Linked DNA regions of Homo sapiens. The protein of the gene in region 3 interacts with the protein of the main gene of each other region in a pairwise test. Each region holds a gene or a part of one and is shown on either strand. Other genes may lie near its edges. The genes, in order: KRTAP3-2, SPATS1, ZIC1 and ZNF620.

What was found.
Region 1: the proteins of ZIC1 (region 3) and KRTAP3-2 interact in binary tests that used the Homo sapiens proteins (3 or more experiments, as listed by UniProt).
Region 2: the proteins of ZIC1 (region 3) and SPATS1 interact in binary tests that used the Homo sapiens proteins (3 or more experiments, as listed by UniProt).
Region 4: the proteins of ZIC1 (region 3) and ZNF620 interact in binary tests that used the Homo sapiens proteins (3 or more experiments, as listed by UniProt).

Annotation. Positions count from the first base shown.
Region 1 is NC_000017.11:40,998,657-41,004,824, forward strand, and holds KRTAP3-2 (keratin-associated protein 3-2), read right to left. Parts: upstream 1,251-6,168; 5' UTR 1,198-1,250; coding exon 901-1,197; 3' UTR 537-900; downstream 1-536.
Region 2 is NC_000006.12:44,373,627-44,380,675, reverse strand, and holds the end of SPATS1 (spermatogenesis-associated serine-rich protein 1), read right to left. Parts: intron 4,319-7,049; coding exon 4,203-4,318; intron 3,642-4,202; coding exon 3,613-3,641; 3' UTR 497-3,612; downstream 1-496.
Region 3 is NC_000003.12:147,412,354-147,417,257, reverse strand, and holds the end of ZIC1 (zinc finger protein ZIC 1), read right to left. Parts: intron 4,741-4,904; coding exon 4,577-4,740; intron 3,905-4,576; coding exon 3,707-3,904; 3' UTR 539-3,706; downstream 1-538. UniProt on the Homo sapiens protein: Acts as a transcriptional activator. Involved in neurogenesis. Plays important roles in the early stage of organogenesis of the CNS, as well as during dorsal spinal cord development and maturation of the cerebellum.
Region 4 is NC_000003.12:40,516,010-40,519,256, reverse strand, and holds the end of ZNF620 (zinc finger protein 620), read right to left. Parts: coding exon 2,394-3,247; 3' UTR 521-2,393; downstream 1-520. UniProt on the Homo sapiens protein: May be involved in transcriptional regulation.

The DNA.
Region 1 (6,168 bases), on a different chromosome or scaffold from region 3:
TTTTTCTATTATAATCCGATGTGGATTTTGTTAAAGAATCTTACATGTTTTATTTCTCTTGCATATTTTGGGTTTATTTCATAACTGTGCTCATTAAGCTTCTGGTTTCATTAGTATTGAAGGTTCTATGATGTGGTAGGAAAAATTGGGCTTTAGAGTCAGACATACAAGAGGCTGAATTCTGATTTTCTAAGTAATTAACTTTATGACTTTCAGAATGTTGAATAACGCTTAAAACTTCATTTTTTCTTATCCATTAGTGCTGTTTTAAGGACTAAATCAATAATTTACTGGTGAAGAGTAGATAAATAAATGTTGGTTCACACCAAAATTGCACTTGTCTGAGGAAGAAGAGAGAAGAGAAGGCAAACATGAAAGAGAACCTGTTAAAAGTTAGCAAGCCATGTTAGTAGTAGCAAGAATGTTAGTCATTCTGCCAATAGAGTCTTCTTTAAAAGATTAAAATAATCATCCTGTTTTTACCTTTTTAAAATGGAAGAAATATACCCAAAACTAACATAAACAAATGACACATCTTGCCAGAGAAATATAGTTTATTGGAAAACCCACCAAGAAATTTTCTTCTATGAAAATACCCAGTACAAGAAACAAGAGCCAGGAAGCAATATGATCAAGAACATGTAATCTGAGGTCTTAAAGATTGAAACAGTATTTTGCTAATAAAACTCATTCACCTGCCCACAGGAACCAAATGGTTTTTCAGCTAAATAACCATAAAAAATACTTTTCTTTTTTTCCCCCATTAAAACCAAAGGTAAGTTCTTCATATCTGGGTCATCTGGTCTACCTTAACATCTGGCAAACTACTGAGGCAAGTGAATACTGAAGGGACAGCTTCTGGATTCTTCGTTGTCGGGCACTGAGCAAAGTAGCCATCCATCAGCAGCCTCTTGGGAGGCAGGGCTCACAGCAGGGCTGAGTGAAGGTGGTGAGGTTGAGGGTCTCCAGGCCCGGAGTTGGCTGGCAGGAGTTGAGCAGGAAGCAGGTGGGCACGCAGGGCTGAGGAATGTGGCAGGGTGGGGGACAGTTGTCACAGCAGATGGGCTCCAGTAACCAAACTGTGTGTGGGCAGGTGCTGGGCAGGCAGACTCCACAGCGGCAGGATTTGTCGGAGGAGCAGATGGTGGTGGCAGGCCCAGTGGGGACACTGCAGCTGCGAGAGGCACAGCAATCCATGGCAATGGGCGTCTGGTTAGCTTTCAGTTTCTTAGATGAGGATTCTGAGGTACAAATGTCTCCTCTTTTGTTAGGGCTCTTATATACCCTCCCAAGTGGGCATTGGTCCAACTGGAAGCCTTCCTGTTTTGTTTATGGCACCCTTTTTCACTGAGATTCTCTAATCAGTTTGTCATTTACATGTCCATTAAGAGTTCCCGCTCTTATTAAGTTAATCATATTTTTGACTCATTGACTTGTCATTTTTGTCACAAGATCATCACATTTTGTCTTCACAGGTTTCTGGCATGCCAAACCTTATATGACTTTTATGGGTAATCAATCCAAGTGACAATTCAGCTGTAATTTTGGAGGCCAAACTCTTCTTGTTTTTCCCTCTTAATTTAAAATACTATGGATAATGTGATTTCTAATGACTAATTTCAGAATGAGTAACTCAAATGATGAACTGGACCATTTTCAACTCAATAAAGTCAACAAGAATATGGCTATTTACAGATGAATGTTTCATGTGACTACAGGCATCTCGGACATGTTTGCATTATTTAGTGATATTATAATTCAGGTTCTATTGAGCAAGCAAAGTGGTAGAATGGTACAGGATGAAGAAACTCCTTTTTATTATTTTTATTAAATCTGTAGTGAATTTCTCAATGTTGTATTATTCTATGGATTTTTTTTTTCTAAAATAGTCTCTATTCTCAAAGTTATGCCAATCTTGTGGTGAATCAAAGTATAAATTCATTGGAAGGAAGGATCCACACAGTGGCCATTCTTTGTTGAATATACCACTAAAAGAAAACCACCTCAGCCTTGATTCATTTTCACATGAATGGTGTACATACTTTAAAATAAGATGAAATAAGAATTAAAAGGAGAAACCACAAGAGTCACAGAACAATCATGGATTTTGGCAGGGAATCTGACTCAATGCAATTTAGAACTATGGCATTCATAAAAATCACTTTTTCACTGACTTACTCCCTACTTTGCATGTTTATTTGTTTTCATACCTTGGATCTTGAACTAGATTGAAATTCCTTTGAGGTATGCCTTAAACAACATTATTTACTTAAGTCAGCCAGAGATTGAACTAGATAATATCAAATGTGTAATATTCTAGATTCCAACATCTTCCTACACCTGTCCATGATCAGCACAAATCCTTTCAGATAATATTGTATAATTTAAATTACATACTCGTTATGTGGCAATTTGTTGACTTAACAGAAAGCAAAGATTCCGGGTAGGTTGTTTCTGAGGGGACATTACCAAAAACCAGTACGATCTACTTAAAAGAGAAGAAAGCTGGCTAAAATCAGTGGAAAATATCAAATGTCATTGGTAGGTAAGCCTTATACGTTATACGTTAAAACAACCAGTTTATCTTTTTCTTTAACAACAAAAATATGTGGTACATATATGCCATAGAATACTATGCAGCCATAAAAAATAAGGAGCTCCTATCCTTTGAAGAAACATGGATGGAGCTGGAGGCTATTATCTTTAGTAACTAATGCAGAAACAGAAAACCGAATACTGCATGTTCTCACTTATAAGTGGTAGCTAAATGATGAGAACGCATGGACACATAGAGGGGAATAACAGATGCTAGAACCTATCAGAGGGTGGAAGGTGGGAGGAGGGACAGGATCAGGAAAAATAACTGGTAGGTACTAGGCTTAATACGTGGGTGATGAGATAATCTGTACAACAAACCCCCATGACACCAGCTTACCTATGTAACAAACCTGCACAGGTACCCCTGAACTTAAAAGTTAAAAACAAAAAAACAGAAAACAGCTTCAAATCATTTTTATTAGCAGGAATTTACAACAAATGCCAAGGGTGTCGAACATCATACTGTTACCAGATGGTGCCATGCAGTTCCAGGCTTTTGGTGTCCCAAAGAATTGGACGAGACACCCACAGCAAAACAAAGAAACAAAAGTGTATTAAGCACAGTATTACACTCTAAGAGGGGGAGAGCAAACCAGCCTCTGTGAGATGAGATCAGCCCCCAGCTTGGTGCAGTTTGCGTCTTTGTGTGTGTGTGTGTGTGTGTATGTGTGTGTGTGTGTCCCTTCCCAAGGCTGCCTAATCTCTAGCCAGTGTTTGCCTCTTTGATTGACAGGTGTGTTGCTTAGTTACTTTGGCCCCTGTGTGCTTGCGCACCACCTCCAGCCCATAATTTTAAGTACATACATGATATGCAGTCCATATGCATAAGCCTGAATGAGCTGATTTTCATACAAGGTCATGTTAAGGATACGTTTTCTCTTTAATGCACATGCTTATCCATGAAGAGTTGCCCCTTACTGGTTTGGTCCTTATCTTGCCGGCCATGGGGGCCTTGCTTTCTTCTCTATCTTACTTTTTGTTTTGGCTGGAGTGCAGTGGCATTCTCTGCTCACTGCAGCCTCTACTTTCTGGGATCAAGTGATTCTCCTACCTCAGACTCCCAAGTAGCAGCTGGGATTACAGGTGCCCGCCACCACACCCAGCTAAGTTTTGTATTTTTTGTAGAGAGGGGTGTTTCTCCATGTTGGCCAGGCTGGTCTTGAACTCCTGATCTCAAGTGATCCACCTGCTTCGGCCTCCCAAAATGCCAGGATTACAGCATGAGCCACCGCGCCTGGTCTAACTTCTGCTTCTTATCTTGCTTCTTGCTTACCTGCCCCTTCACCTTGCTTCTGGTCTCTGCTTTTATTCACTCCACCCTTTATCCAAGTTTTAATTCCCTTTGCTAGTCTCCTGCCTCAATACCTGCACTTTACCACTGAAGAACAGATAAGCAAATTCAAGTGGCTTTCCCAGTATATTATAAAATTCAAAGTTAATGAACTAGTATTGAAATCGTCAAGGAAATGTTTAATGTTTACTTACTCTTGACTTACCAGTCTCTCTCATCTAGAAGCCAGTGGCTTGGCAAGTAGAATATATGAAGAAGACCCTCTCCCATTCTCTGTGTTCTCTCTGACTTCTCTTTTAAAATCGATTTTGAAATATTATATAGATTCAGGAGATCTACTGTACAACATGGTGACTATAGTGAATAACCATATATTGCATTTTTGAAAAACGCTGAGAGAATGGATTAAGTGTTCTCATCACAAAAATGATAACTATGTGAGTCACGCATATGTTAATCATACAGCACATTACATAAAGTGAAGGCGGGAGTCTCCTAGGTACTTTACCCTCTGTGACCTCGTTCATACTGTTTCTTTAGCTTAAAGTGACCTTTCCCAATTCTCTAGTTTCCAAATCCTGTTGATCCCTCAAGATTCAGCCAAACATCCCCTTCATAAAGAAACTCTAGGTGATTCTTCTAGATGTTTGCATCCTTTTCTCTGCTCTCACAAAATGGGCTGCCTATTCTTCCCTTTCAACCTCATTTCTTTCTGCTATATTTTGTAGTTTGTCACTTAAATTTGTTTTCCTCACTCCAATGCAAGGTTCTTGGAAGTGGTAATCGTATGTTAGTTTTATTTGTCTTTTTCAAGCACCTAGGACAATGCCTGAAACAGGGTAGGCATTTGATAAATATTTGTTGAATTGGATTACATTTCAGATTAGAATTAAAAAGGTATTTATTTATTTTTATAATGGCCTTTTATAACAGTAACACTTTATATAAAGAGAGTGATTCATTTTTTGTGTGAATTGCTTTACAGTTGTCAAAACTTTTTTTTTTTTTTGAGATGGAGTTTTGCTCTTGTTGCCCAGGCTGGAGTGCAATGGCACGATCTTGGCTCACAGTAACCTCTGCCTCCCGGGTTCAAGCCATTCTCCTGCCTCAGCCTGAGGAATAGATGGGATTACATTCATGCTCTACCATGCCCGGCTAATTTTGTATTTTTAGTAGAGACGGGCTTTCACCATGTTGGTCAGGCTGGTCTTGAACTCCGGACCTCAGGTGATCCGCCCGCCTCAGCCTCCCAAAGTGCTGGGATTAGAGAGGCGTGAGCCACCATGCCTGGCCAACATTTTTAAATTCAAAGATTTACCTAAATGAGACAGCGAAAAAAATGGGCTTGGCTCAATCTTTGAGGTCCTTTCTGTGAGCATGTTGATCTCAAATTGCTAGCTTCACTGCCTCTTTAAGGACACGTGAGTTTATTTAGAGGCAGGGAAAAAATAAAAATCAAAGGTAGATGCTGACCTTGGCATTTAAAACGATTCTAAGCTTAGAGCCTAATGCATTTCACTATCCTCACAGTTTTCTTCAGGTATCTACGTATGCCTGTGAGGCCTCTTTTTGGCTATGAAATTTATGTTGATGTCATCAGAAAGTGTAATTCTGCTGGATGTATTTTTAAGTTCATGATGCATGTGTCAAGAGTCGTTGGGTAATTATAGCATTAAATGTTGAGGCAGTATGTGGTTTGGGGAGTAGTGGTGTTTATTTAGTTTTGAAGTAAGGGGATCCATGGTAGCATTTTTTTTCCCATTTCTCATTTGAAATCATTGTTCAAAACAGGAAAAGAAAACTTCTGTAAAACTGAAGGCACAGTGCTATATTTTCTTCCAAATGGCCTCATTAAAGGCCATTTGCTGAGCAGCGCTTAATGACTACTGAAGGTCCTCAGGGTAATGTGGGCAAGCTCTTTGGCTAGCAGCAAGGTGGTTCACACTCTGGATGCAGGTGGTGACAGAGAGCCCGCTCAGGGTTGGAGCTGGGTGGCATTTGTTGAGCAGTCAACAGGATGGCACATAGGAGTCAGGCATGCAGCCAGGCAGGGGCCAGGTTCACAGCAGGTGGGCTGAAGGAGGCTGATCTCATGAGGACAGGTGCTGGGTAGGCAGACTTCACATTGACAGCTTATGTCAGAGGGGCAGATAGTGGTGGCCAGGCCAGTGGGGACGCTGCAGCATCCTTGGAGATAGGAATCACAGCAAGACATAGTGACAGTGGACCAGGACAATGTTTTGTGGCAAAGGAAGGCTTTCTTCTACAAGGTTGTCCTC
Region 2 (7,049 bases), on a different chromosome or scaffold from region 3:
CCCAGCCAGGAAAGAAAAGCCTCTTTAGGACAGAGACATGATCTTGAAGGACTCCAACTCTAAAATACTTCACCAAGTCAAGTCCTGTAAACAATGTGTTTACCTGCCTAGATTTTGAGACCAAAATGCCTAAGAACAAAACAAAACTAACCAAACTGAGTGCCTCGTATTAGAAATGTGGACAATTAGTGGAATCCTACAGTATATTCCTAAATTCCTTGTGGAATTTTAGAAGTTTAATATCCTACTATCTTAACATTTTGGTAACTTGGAGTTCAGAGATCACTAATTCGAACGTTGGTGCCACTAGCTGAATAATACAATGTTTCTTCATGTCCACAGAGGTCATTTTTCATTTATCCCAGGATCCAAAATTAGAATACCTCTGTGCAATATAAAATTGCACACTAAGAAATTTACTTGTAAAGTTTCACATATAGTTTATTTCTATTGAACTTCAGTTATTGAAAGTAAGAATTGAACACACACACACCTCTGCACCCACATGTTTTTATTTACCAAAGACCCTACAGTGAGGTGAAGGGGATCTTTACATCTAACAGGTTCAACCTCTTTCTAGCTGGAAAGAAGCAAAAGCTGGAACAGCTATGATATGCACATATTTTTCCCATGTGGCCTTTCTCTATGCCTTTGTCTCCCCACACACGTAGACATACTCATGCTGTCCAAAGTTGGCAGTGGAACTCTACCTGACAGCTATTGAGGTGCCGTGGAATAAGGCCTGGGCATCGAGATGTACCCACAGAGAACACCAGATCCAGCGAAAACTGCCCTGATTTTCAGGGGATGAAATGTAGCTCTGCAACTCCAGAAGTTCAATCATCTAACAGTTGTGTAGGGTTTTTTTGTTTTTTTGTGTTTTTTTTTTTTACTCATGGTTTTTGCGGCCTGGATTAAAAGAAAAAGGAATCAAATCATATCTACTTAGAGCAGCACCTAGGAATTATATAGACCTCTTTGAAACCTAGAGACTACTCCAAACCTTCTAAAACTGTATTTTGGTTGTTTTTCTTTCTTTCTTTCTTTCTTTTTTTTTTTTTTTTTTTTTTTTTTTTGAGACAGAGTCTCACTCTGTTGCCCAGGCTGGAGTGCAGTGGCACAATCTTGGGTCACTGCAAGCTCCGCCTCCCAGGTTGACACCATTCTCCTGCCTCAGCCTCCCGAGTATAGTACAGTCCTGGGACTATAGGTGCCCACCACCATGCCTGGCTAATTTTTTTGTGTTTTTAATAGAGACAGGGTTTCTCCATGTTAGCCAGGATGGTCTCGATCTCCTGACCTCGTGATCCGCCTGCCTCGGCCTCCCAAAGTGCTGGGATTACAGGCGTGAGCCACCACGCCCAGCCGGTTGTTTTCCTTAATATATTTATGGTGTAGGACTCCCTCCTTCCAAAACACCAGGGAACCTTCTGAGAGCAGTTTCCTGTGCCACCTAGATAATCTCACCAGGAAATCTCTGCAGAATCTTTTTTTGTTCTATATTGTGTCCTCCATTACTAACCCACCTGGTGGTTGCAGTTGACTTTTTTTTTTAGGGGTGGGGCATTGTTTTTGACTAGGGGAAAGAAGACTTTTTTACATTTAAGTAATAGAGGCACAAAAAATTATTATCTTTTCAGAAGTTAATGTGTCCTGGAAAATCTCTTGGCAGCCTCTGTCTTTTTAAAAATTATTTGGTGTTTTTTTAAATTATTATGTTGGGAGCAGGGGTGGGCCTGTGACCCAGGGGCCAGAGGATTAGCACGGATGTATGCTGATGTTAACCCAAGGAGTGGTCAGGCACAGCAGCTGGCAGTCGGCACCATGCTCTCTGCCAGTTAGTCTAGAGGCACATATGAAGGTGCCATGAATGCATTGTGGTTTTTGTTTGCTTCTTTGTTTTTGGGATGGAGTTTCGCTCTTGTCGCCCAGGCTGGAGTGCAATGGCATGGTCTTGGCTCACTGCAACCTCTGCCTCCTGGGTTCAAGAGATTCTCCTGCCTCAGCCTCCCGAGTACCAGGGATTACAGGTGCCCACCATCTTGCCTGGCTAATTTTTGTGATTTTAGTAGAGACAGGTTTCGCCATGTTGACCAGGCTGGTCTCGAACTCCTGACCTCAAGTGATTCGCCTGCCTCGGCCTCCAAAAGTGCTGGGATTACAGGCATGAGCCACCACACCTGGCTAAATGTATCGTGTTCTAAACCTGCTTCATTCACTTTGGCTGTGACTGGAGACAACAAACATTTTGGGAAATAAATCATGCTCATGTCATAGACATGTGGAGTCTCAGCATGGACCCCAATCTCTTTCCACTTTAAGGTTTTGGAGATACTAGATCTGCAGCCTTCATTAGCCAGCCAAGGGGGTTCCCTAGTGGAGAAAGAGATTGGCTGTAAAAATGCCGTGAGTCACTAGTTTGACTGTGTCAAAGCCTGTGAGGCAGCTTTTGTTTTCACCTTTTCCTCCAAATGTTTGCTTCTTGTCTGATTGACAGGAGGCCCTAAAACTCATGACTGGTGGTCACTGAGCTCTCACCCTGCTTGGCTATTGTAGATAGGCAATACTAAACTGGGGAATGCAGCTACAGGGCAATAGTATTACTTACCTGGTATAGATCCAGCCTTCATGTTTTTCTGACATGTACCAAGTTAACATTAGAGAAACATTCCAAAAGGTATTAATAAAATGAAAAGTTTTACCAAAAGCAATGAAAGTTCACTGCTATGGTCTAAATGTTTGTCCTCCCCACCCCAAAATGCATATGTCGAAACCTAATCCCCAAGGTGATGGTATTAGGAGGTAAGGCCATTGGGAGGCGATTAGGTCATGAGACCAGAGCCCTCATGAATGAGATTAGTGCCCTTGTAAAAGAGACCCCAGAGGACTAGCTCACCCTTTCTATCATATGAGGACACAGCAAGAAGGTACTATCTATGAGCCAGAAGGCTGGCCCTCAGCAGACACTGAACCTGCCAGCACCCTGCGCTTGGACTTCCCAGCCTCCAGAACTGTAAGAAATGAATTCCTATTGTTTATAAGCCATTCTGTTTATGGCGTTTTGTTATAGCAGCCTGAACAGGCTAAGACACTCACATCATGTCTGTATTTTATGATTGATTTGAGGGCATCCTTAGAAAACTAAATATAATTGACTAAAATTGAATGTGGACTAAATGTTAATAATATTTTATCAGTGTTAAATTCTGTGAGTTTGGTATTTGTGTTGTGGTTGTTAGACAACATCCTTGACCTTAGAAGATACATGCTGAGGTATGTAGGTATACAGGTGTAAAGGGTTACAATATCTGCCACTCACTCTCAAAGAGTTCAGCAAAATGGTAACTGTAATATTGTGAGAGAGAGAAAGTTTGAACAAATATTAACAATGATAGAATCTATGTGAAGGATATGCAGGTGTTTGTTGTACAATTCTTGCAACTTTTATGTAAATGTGAAAGTTTTCAAAATATAAAGTTTTAAAAAAGCAAAGCACAACACTTCCTCATAAGGGTCAAACACTGGATTTAGAACAGTCACATGACAAAAAACATCAACTGGAAAAGGGTCGCCAGAGTGCAGTCAGCACATGTTTTGTGGGCCTGTTTATGCTCAGGATTGTCTTGGAAAGTCCAAAGCACCTGTGGATAGAGGCATGGAGTTACAGGTTTTCTTCCATTACAAAACTAACAATTCTCAATCAATACACTCGACCCCCAATGCTTGGCTATGACATCTGCCCATGAGACCACCTCGGGACAGAAGACACATCCACTCCAGGAGATACTTTGCCTGCCCTCCTTTCCACTGTGAAGCCTCTCAAAATCCTGTTCTCTGGACTCCTCCAGTTTTGTTTTGTTTGTTTGTTTGTGTTTGAGGCAAAGTTTCGCTCTGTTGCCCAGGCTGGAGTGCAAGTGGCACAATCTCAGCTCACTGCAACCTCCACCTCCCAGGTTCAAGTGATTCTCCTGCCTCAGCCTCCTGAGTAGCTGGGATTACAGGCACGCGCCACCACACCCAGCTAATTTTTGTATTTTTAGTAGAGACGGGGTTTCACCATGTTGGTCAGGCTTGTCTTGAACTCCTGACCTTGTGATCTGCCCGCCTCGGCCTCCCAAAGTGCTGGGATTACAGGAGTGAGCCACCATACCCGGCGGACTCCTCCAGTTTTTACACTATTCTTTGAAGTTTCTTTAACCCACCAGAAAGGTGTAGCATGTGCATTAAGGGCACTGCTGGCTGCCAGTTGTCAAGCTCCTCAACCTCTTGTATCTCATTTTTCAAACTGTTGGCCTTCTCCTTCACCCAGAAAGGCAAGCTGTGGGAAGAAGACAACACCCTGAGTTGTAGTTTGATGCAAAATTTACAAACACCAACAGCGGATAAGAAATTATGTGCTCCAAAAGTAAAAAGACCTCCAATTTAGGAGACCAGCTTCAAAATAAAATATGTTAGTTGTTCACCGTTTGCTCCTGCCTCAAACCCTCTTGTTCAGCCCTTCTCTGCCAAGAGGCTGACCTTGCAGCTAGTATCACCTGGGCTCCTCTGTGCTTCCACATTTTTTTTTTTTGAAACAAAGTCTCACTCCATCGCCCAGGCTGGAATGCAGTGGCACAATCTCAGCTCACTGCAACCTCCGCCTCGCAGATTCAAGCAATTCTCCTGCCTCAGCCTCCCGAGTAGCTGGGACTATAGGCACATGCCACCACATCTGGCTAATTTTTGTATTTTTAGTAGAGACAGGGTTTCACCTTGTTGGTCAAGCTGGTATCGAATTTCCGACCTAAGGTGATCCACCTGCCTCGGCCTCCCAAAGTGCTGGGATTACAGTTGTGAGCCACTATACCCAGCCCATATTTTTTTGTTTGTTTTTTGAGACAGAGTCTCACTCTGTCGCCCAGGCTGGAGTGCGATCTCTGCTCACTGCAACCTCCGCCTCCCGGGTTCAGGTGACTCTCCTGCTTCAGCCTCCCAAGTAGCTGGGACTACAGGCACATGACACCACGCCCAGCTAATTTTTGTATTTTTAGTAGAGATGGGGCTTTACCATGTTGGTCAGGCTGGTCTTGAACTCCTGACTCCAAATGATCCTCCCACCTTGGCCTCCCAAAGTGCTGAGATTACAGGCATGAGCCACCATCCCCACCCGTGCTTCCACCTTTGAGCTGGGCTTGGCTGATGGCACCGATAGGAGATCAGAAGGTGGACAGAAATTAGGGCATTTCTTACCTAGTTCCTCCCCTGATGTCCTATCTCCCAAGGCACCCCAATTCTGGCAGTGCCACAGCTCCTGTTGGGCAGCCCTTCTCCCGGAGCTCCAGCGCTTACTGTTCTGCAAACTGTGATCCCTCTTCTTGCTGCTCAGACCCAAGAGTAGTAACGCTTCCCACTGTCATGAGCCTCTGGGTGCTTCACCCTCCCATGTGGGTTCCCCCAACCCTGCCCACACACCCATAAATAGTCCCTTTCCTTAAGCTGTCTTCAGAATCCCAGCTGAGTGTGCTTTCTGTTTTCTGCTGGGACCTTGGCTAATGCAGATACCCAGAGTCTTCCCAGAGCCACTGAGACCTGAAAGGACATTTCTGGGCTGCATGTGGTCCAATAGGTAGTAGGAAGTGTGACTCTGGGATGAGTTGGAGCAGGCAGATGCAAAATGTTTTCATCTTTTGGAAGCTAGAATTCTTGTGCTTTAGGGGAGAAATATACCACAATTGGCAAAATGCCCTGATAAAACTGCTGGGGGTAGGGAAGTCCCTGCAAGAACGAAGAGGACGGTTACCACATAGGTAATTGGTGAAAGTCAAAGTTATCACTTAAAGCCAACAAGCCAAATAGTAGAAACCCAAATAAGAAAAGCAGGACTAAGAGCAATGTATAAAGATACTAGCGTAAAGAACTACTAGAACAAAAACACGAGCATTTCTAAATATCAAAAGAAAGCATTTTTCAGCCTTTGTTGAAACAATCAAACACTGAAAGACTCACACTAAATGTAATACAGTACACCTAATAAATGTAACAAATAATGTAACAGAACTGAAATCAAATATATCAGTCTAATCAATAAATGCAAGTGGCCTAATTCACCTGAATTAAAGAAAATATTTTCAAGCTGGCTCACGAGCAGAATCCAATTCTACCCTAAAAGCAAAGTGCTTCAAAAGCAAAAGAATGGGCAAAAAGAATGGGCAAAGGTCAGATGCAAATAAAATAGAGAATTAGAACCTTAATAACTGGCTAGGTATACTTTAGGACAAAAAGTATTAAATGAGAAAAATAAAGATACTTTCATAATGCTAAAAGACACAATTAACAACAAAAATAGTCGAAATGCTAATATTCAGACACCTTAACTCTCACACTAACTCTCAGTCCAAACTAGGCCAAGTGAACAAAAGTAAGGAAATATAGGGGCTAAACAATATAACCAATAAAGTCAATCTTCTGTATATGTATCTAACTTTCCATCCTGATTAAGTGGAATACACTTTCTTTTCAAGCACATGTGGAAATCTAAAAATAAATATTAAGTGACCTAATATAGATGCATCCCATAATACTTTGTCCTTGGAAGATACATTAACTGCAATGCCTCATCTAGGACCCAGATCAAGTACCACCTCCTCTGCAACATGTCCTCAACTTCCCCCATGTCTTTCCTCTATGTACACATTGTACCATATTTGCTTTCAATTGTTTTATGATTACTCATCTAGTGGTCTCTCCCCACAATAGACAATGAGCCTTGAAACAAATATCATATCTTATTCATCTTTGTGATCCCTGCCTCCATTACCTCACCACCTTCCCATTTCTCCTGTAGATTAAGTGCATAAACGGTACTCAAAGGATGTCTGCTGAGTTGAATAAATAATCCCTGTAAACGTACTGCACATTATAGGGACCTTTTCAATAAGTAATCTTACCTCCCTAATTTTTATTCTAATTCTGGCTCTCTCTGTCACTAACTAGAGAAGACTTGGCAACTTTATCTGGTTCTGGTTATCAGGTTTTGTTCTTATTTTACAGGTGGATTGTTGCATTTGCAG
Region 3 (4,904 bases):
AAAACAAAGGATCTGAAATGTTTGAAATTACTTAGCCCCCATATAAATGGTGCTTGTATATTTATATGCTTGCTCTACAAATGCACACACACACATACCACAACTCATTTCTCTTCATTTCTCAAATATGATTGCTTGTACTCAGGCATTTTCTGTTGACACAACATAACTTTTTAATAACTTGTTAGCTGTTCTAATCATTTGATAGTATTCAGAATACAATGCAATTGCAAAATGAACCAGGACAGCATTCTACCTAAGTCAGAATCTAAAGCTACACACAGGAAACAGCTATTTGCAGCATCTTCAGCTCCTGCTAAAGAGAGTCTAACAATATATTTTGCTGTTCACATTTATGTATTTCAAAACCTAATAGCCCATGAAAAAAAGTATGAAGAATACATCTCAAGAAGCAGATATTAAAGGTACCAGCAAAATAATAGACTACATTTAACTTCGAAGGATTATTTTAGGCCACCTACATCATTAATGACTTTTTCTTTGTGATAGGTGTTGGAAAAGAGAATGCACAGGAGGGTTGGCTTAAATGTTGGCTTTTATTACGTTTACTTGCTGTGAGTAAGATTATTCACAAATGCAAACACACTACTCTTCAAATGTTTTCTTAAAAATTATTTGGCCTTCACAGTCTAAACAGATATTTGAAATATGGAGTCATTTTGAAGTAAACATTTACCCCTAAAATTTATCTTTAAAATATCCTACTTAAATCATATGTCATAGTGTGATATTTAATTGTTACACTGTGGTATTAAAGCAAAAGGGGCATCAGGTACACAACAAAAATTAGACAGTTATAATTCCCAATTTGAGGTAAACTACATCTAGGAATAGGAATGTTCGAAGAAAAGATGAACTCATCATTTACTATCTTCTTAAATGCACCAGCAAAATTACAAAAGTACCACTATTATCATGTTTATCATTATCACACTCATATCAGGTTATCAGACAAGCTGATCTCAATGAAAGTGGGAAGGATTATTAATTGTGGTGTTATCTTTTCTAGAGAGAAGAGATGTCTTTATTCCTCTTTCTATTTTTAACTAATGTCTGGACCTAATGTCTGGAGTCACTTCAAATGCAAATCTGTTAATCAGTTTCAAACTTCCAAACCAATTGGGGCTAGCTTTTGCTTCGCAAATTTTTGGAGCTAGCAGCAATTCCTGCTTAGGTATTCAACTTCCATAAATCTCACTAAACCTTGCAAGGTGGCGCTCTTTTCATGAAAAAAGCCAATATTATTGTTATAATCAGAATAACATTTTTTAAAAAGTTAAACACCACCCTCCCCAGTGTTTGATGTGGTACAGTAAGTGCAGCAAAGTCCTTCCTCAGCAAATAAGACTTTGTTGAAACAGTGACAAATATAAATAGCAAGAGATGAAAAGACAAGTCAACAAAGGATTCTTAAAGAAATTGAACATTTTTATCTTGTAATTGGCCAATGGTATAAACTGAAAAATTAATTTCACTTTAAAATAGATGTATCTTAAGGGGTTGTTATACTTTGTGGGGTTTTTCCTCTTGTTTTCTTTCTCAGAGTCAAATATGGCCTGTGGCTTCCTGAACACATAGAGTGCATTAAAGAATCAGGTCCATGGCCACCCTTGCCCAGTGAGGTCAGTTTCTGCCACCTGCTCTGCACCTCCACACACTAGCAACTACAGCCAAGGGCCTGATTTGTGATCTCCGGCTACGTTGTCTGCCTAATGGGGCGATCATGCAAGCTACAACCAGAGACAAAGAAGCCTGCGTTCCTACCAGCGCAGCTAACTTCATGGAAGCAGCATAGCTTGCAAATCTATCAAACTAAACTGCAAGAAAGACAATCTGATTTAGAGAAAAGGCATTCTGCTACAGTCATTAAGCACAAGTAATTTAGATTTTTTATATTGTCTCCTCATTTACAAATTTACTGTATCAATGCCAACCAATGGAACGAATTTCTTAAGTAAATGAGAAATAAATAAAAGAGATAGAAAGATAATCAAATTACTTAAAATAATCCTCTTCCCTAGATGTATTTTTGAGAGAACTAATAACAGTGGCAAAATCATAGGAATAATAACATATCATAGGAAGTAATTAATTTAAATTAGCATCATGTTTGAAGAATATAAGTGAAACGCTTTATGGACATTTACTTTTGTACAAAGAAGGAAGGCCTGGAAAAGCATGCATCGACATCCTGAAAATTAGTTATGGTCATAAATGGTTTAATTGAAGACAGCAATTTAAAATATGATATTGTAAATCTGCAACTCAGTTTCAGCCCGGGGAATTTAATCTAGGGGGCAGCGGAACCCTCGGCTGCAAGTTCATTTGCAATGTTGCAGAGCGAGCCCCTGAGCTTCTGACAATTCGTCTACATTAATATTGATGTCGCCTGTGCAATCTATTCCTGTTATTTTTATGGTTGTTATTCTACATCTGCAAAGGTCATTTAAATTATACTGCGGCCGAAAATTTGTTTCATAAATTTTGATATAAATACTAATTACACTCTCTCGGAGAGCCAGCAGGGTAGCATTCATTTATCACGTTTATACGACCTGCAGTGACAGAAAGGGAAGGCAAGGGAGACTGGAGAGCTTTTCTGGAGACCCTTTAAGACTGGCAGAAGAGGCAGCAGGTTGCTGGTGGGTGAAGAAGAAATTCCTACCACAATCACGGAGATTTAAGAATCTTTAATAAGGTACGAAAGGTTACCAAACAGTTCTGGAAACTAAAGTGTACATACGAGTTCTTCTAGCCATAAATATTGAAGAGCTGTAACATGGATAAACCGGCCCTTTACATGCGGATAAATATGGAAACTAGGAATTATATACATTATGTGGTTGTATCTTTTGCCAAAAGTAACGGACAGTTATAGTTTATATCTTTTTTAATATCACTTTACATAAACAAATGGAACAGTTTGACACGCAGATCCAGGCTCGTACTATACGAATTCTTGACAGGACATGAAACAACATTTTACTGCACTAAAGTACTTAGACTTTGGGACGAAATGTTTGCACTTTATACAAAAAAAGCACATTAATACCAATAATATTGGGTTAGGTCGACGTGGAGACTGTAATCGTACAAAGTAATTCACATTTTGGTACACATTTACTAGAACATTCTTGCCATTCAGTACAAACAGTTGGCTTTCGGCCGCCCACCCCTCCCCCTCCCCCTCCCCCCGCCCATCCGGTCCCTCCCCCCTCCCCCAATGCAAAGACCACAACGCCACAATCCCACCCACCCGCTCCAACCGAGATATAACTATTTACAGAATTCAACAGTACAGTTTTAAGCTAATAATTCTGTATTTACAAGAAAACAAAGAAAAAAAGAAGCCGAAGCCCCAGAGAGCCCGTACCAATTCGACAAGAAACTGGCCCTCGGGGTTGGCGGCATTTGGTCAGGTGGCCTCCTCCCCCTCGACCCCCTACCGCACCTTGGGTACCAAGCCTTTGCCAAAAAAAGAAAAATAATGAAAGCGAAAGGAAATTTTTAAAAGGTTGATGCTTCCTCTCTTACTCGTCCTGGGTCTATTGGCAGATTTTTTAAAAAAGGATTGCGGGGTCTGTGTGGGGGTTGTTTTGATTCGCAGGGTTCTTTCAGTAATGTTGTGTATACGTGTGTGATCAGTCTCTTAAATAGGGTTTTGTTCGATGTTTTGTTTCTGATTTTAAACGTACCATTCGTTAAAATTGGAAGAGAGCGCACTGTGGCCGGCTGTGTGGTGGACTGCGGAGGAGGAGGGCGATAAGGAGCTTGTGGTCGGGTTGTCTGTGGAGGGAGACACGATGGTGGGAGGCGTGGAGGATTCGTAGCCAGAGCTGGCGGCCGGCGAAGGCTGCGAGCCCTGCGAGGAGGATTCGTGGACCTGCAGGAATAAAGTCGCGTTTTTACGGACATAAAGAGCCAGTGCGGCGGCCGACTAGAGAGGCGAAGGCCGCGAGTGCCCTTCCTCCTGGACCCCTTGGAGCCCCCTGAACACAGGTGAGGCCCGATCAGCGGGACTTTGGGCTTGGTTTCTCTGCACAGGCCTGCAGAAACCGTGCTCCTGGGAAAGTCAGGGTCCCCAAGACTCACAAAAGAAAAATAGGTCTGGGAAGAGGGAGACTGGATATGAGGCCAGAGACTGCACTTTCTTTCCCTGAACTTTGCTTGTCCATGTTTAGGTGAGCCAGAGCTCAGGCCTGGGCGCAGGAGTCCAATTCTTGCGTCTCACTGGCAGCTGCAAGGGCAGCAGTTTCCGCAGCGTCAACCCCCTGCAAAAGCCCTAGCTCTGGGCCAAATTCAGTGGCGGCCTTTGCTCATACTCGCCTCTTTTAACTTTTATTATTAAACCAAAAATTTAAAACGGCCTTGGACACTCCCATCCCCTTTTCCAGGTCCCGCCCTACCTTCTCTGCCCAGTTCCACTGAGTGGAACCTTTGCCTTCCCGCTTCCTCTGGCTCCCGCCACCGCCTGTCTGCCACTCGCCGCCCGACCCCAAGCCGAGAGCCAAGAGAGCTCCTGCCTCAAAGGGGGCGACGAGAGTGCGGCGATTACCTTCATGTGTTTGCGCAGCGAACTGGGATGCGTGTAGGACTTGTCGCACATCTTGCAAAGATAGGGCTTGTCGCTCGTGTGCACGTGCATGTGCTTCTTGCGGTCGCTGCTGTTAGCGAAGCGCCGGTCACAGCCCTCAAACTCGCACTTGAAGGGCTTCTCCCCTGGTGCCAAAGTAGAATGAGAGGGGTCTAATTAGAAAAAAATACCGCGGCCGTTTTTCAAAAACTAAACAAATAGAAAAAAAATAAAACAAAAAGCCAGCAGCCCAGGATTAGCACTTTGCAAGCTTAAAAACCCGGAACGTCAATAAATTCTTACATCTGCA
Region 4 (3,247 bases), about 110 Mb from region 3:
AAAAACATAATAAAAATTTAAAACGTTTAATCTATACCAATCTACCTAATGACCTAGCCATTCCACTCCTGTATCAAGATAAATGAAAGCATATATTCTTACAAAGATGTGGACACAAATGTCCATAGCAGCTTTATTTGTAATAGCCAAAAACTGAAAACAACCCAAATGGCCATCAACAGGTCAATGAATAAACAAATTATGGCATATCCATACAGTGGAATACTACTCAGCAATAAAAAGGAATGAACTATTGATATATATGCAACAACATGGGTGAATCTCAAAGTAATTATGCTGAGTGAAAGACACCAGACCAAAAAATAAAGGAAAATTAATCCAAGTGACAGAAAGCAAACCAGTGGTTGCCTGTGAAGGGCCAAGAGGAAGGGATTATGGAGGGGTACAAGCAAAGTTTTGGGGTGGTGGCTGATTATTATCTTGAACTGTGATAATTGTTTCACTAGTATATTGATAAGTCAAAACTTACCAATAGGATTATAATAATAGGTAAAAATTTTTTTTTTTTTTTTTTTGAGACGGAGTCTCAATCTGTCACCCAGACTGGAGTGCAGTGGCATGATCTTGGCTCACTGCAACCTCTGCCTCCCTGGGCTCCTGCCTCAGCCTCCCAAGTAGCTGGGACTACAGGCACATGTCACCCCACGCCCAGCTAATTTTTTGTACTTTTAGTAGAGACAGGGTTTCAGTGTGTTAGCAGGATGGTCTTGATCTCCTGACCTTGTGATCTGCCCACCTCAGCCTCCCAAAGTGCTGGGATTACAGGCATGAGCCACTGTGCCCGGCCAATAATAGGTAATACTTTTATTATATGTAGTCACTGTTTGAAACACTTCTACAAATAATGCATTTAATCCCCAACACAAACCTATGAGGTAGATTAACTGTCATCCTCATTTTACAGATAAGGAAACTAGTGCAGTTTTTGTAACTTAACCAAGGACAAACACCTGGACTCAAACCAAAGTCTGCCTGGCTCTGTATTATTAATCACTACTCTCTGCTTCCTGCAAAATCAAGCTGGCTGCCAGAGGGGATGCTAAAACCTAACACATTTACATCTTCCCTCATTTCCACAGGTAACAGCAATAATGGTAGGTTCTTCCATGATCATAAAAAATAACTAGATGGAATTGCAAGAAAATGCTGCCTGCTTTGAGGTCACTTGAAACAGCAATGAGAATAAATTTAAGACAAATGGTGCCTTGCACCTGACTCAAAGAGTATATACATCCTGACTTTTGCAAAGGCACAGAGTACAACTGTCTAGTGAAGACAAACTGAAGAATAAGTAGGGTGGGTGGACACTGAACCTGAGATAGGTCTCTGGAAGTTTGCACCCTACTAGGAATGTCTTCCAAGATGCATTTGGCTCCACATGGACAGGGCCCGTTTTTGAATTTAGGAGACTTCTGACGTACGGACTGCAATAGGGAATCCATATATCTGTCTTTTTATTTACTGGTTTACTCCTTGTGTAGTGTTGCACATATGAGAAAGGATGCATGGGAGATAAAGATTTCAGATTTAAAGGGTCTGAAATGCCTTTATTCTATACTTATACTTTGGAGTATAGAATTGCAGGGGAAAACATTTTCCATGAGAAGTCTGAAGGCATACACATTGTCATCTGACTTTGAAGGTTGCTCTTGAAAAATCTAATGCCATTTTCATTTTTTACTGTTTTTGAGACAAAGTCTCACTCTGTCGCCCAGGCTGGAGTGCAGTGGTGCGATCTCAGCTCACTGCAACCTCTGCCTCAGGGATTCAAGTGATTCTCCTGCCTCAGCCTCTCTAGTAGCTGGGATTACAGGCATGCGCCACCATGCCTGGCTAATTTTTGTGTTTTTTTTTTTCAGGAGAGACGGGGTTTCACCATATTGGGCGGGCTGGTCTCGAACTCCTGACCTCATGATCCACCCGCCTCAGCCTCCCAAAGTGCTGGGATTACAGGCACGAGCCACCGCGCCTGGCCCCGCTTTCATTTCTGATCTTTTGTTTTCTCTCTCTAGAAACTTTTTAGGGTCTCATTTTTTCTCCATGATCCTCTTATTCAAACTTGGTGTTTTCATAATTCACAGCAATTTTCCTTAATGTAGGTTTCCCTTGAATCCATCCTGCTGGGCACCCAGCATGTCCTTTAAATCTGGAAACTTACATTTCCTTTTATGTTTCTAAGTTTGTTTGTTTGTTTTTTGGTCTTCTCTAACCATAAAGAGACTTCATGTTGGGGAAACAGGTTCAAAAAACTTAAAGAAGAGTTCATGATGAAAGCCAAGTGTCTAACCAGGAAGGACAGCGAGGACACTGATAAAAAGCATGAAAATAAAGAGAAAAAAGGAGAGGCACAGTGGGCCTAACTATGGATAGCCCTATGCTTGGACAGGTGTCTTCTGAGTGTGTAGTTTCTGATGCAGAATGAATCTTCCACACCAGCTGAAGGTTTTACCACACACTTTACACTCATAAGGTTTCTCGCCAGTGTGAACTCGCTGGTGCTGAATCAGGGTTATTTTCTGATTGAATGCCTTCCCACACTCCTTACATTCAAAGGGCTTCTCCCCAGTGTGAATTCGCTGATGCTGAGTCAAGGCTGTGTTGGAGCTTAATCGTTTTCCACACTCTTTACATTCATAAGGTTTCTCCCCAGTGTGCATTCGCTGATGGACAGTGAAACTTGAGCTGCAACTGAAAGTTTTCCAACATTCGTTACATTCATAGAGCTTCTCCCCAGTGTGGAACCTCTGGTGCTGGAGGAAGACAGAGCTGCTACTGAAGGCCTTGCCGCACTCCTTACATTCATAGGGCTTTTCTCCAGTGTGGATTCTCTGATGCTGAATCAAGGCTGTGTCTGAACTTAAACCTTTTCCACATTCTTTACATTTAAATGGTTTCTTTCCAGTGTGAATTATCTGATGCCGAATAAGTAATGAGTTATATCTGAAGTATTTTCCACATTCTTTGCATTCAAAAGACTTTTCACCAGTGTGACATTTCTCATGTCGGTGGAAGTCTGCCATTTGAATGAAATATCTGCCACATTGTCCACATTCATAAGATATCTGACCACTAGGATTTGTCTGATTTGTAGTGAGTTGTGTGCTGACGCTAATATTTTTTCCTAATTTCTCAAACTTCTCTCCATTCTTGACCTCATAGGCCTCATGGTGCCTGGCTGAGGTATCTGTGAAATGTCTCCTCTTTGACTTTGTCTTAATTATCCAAT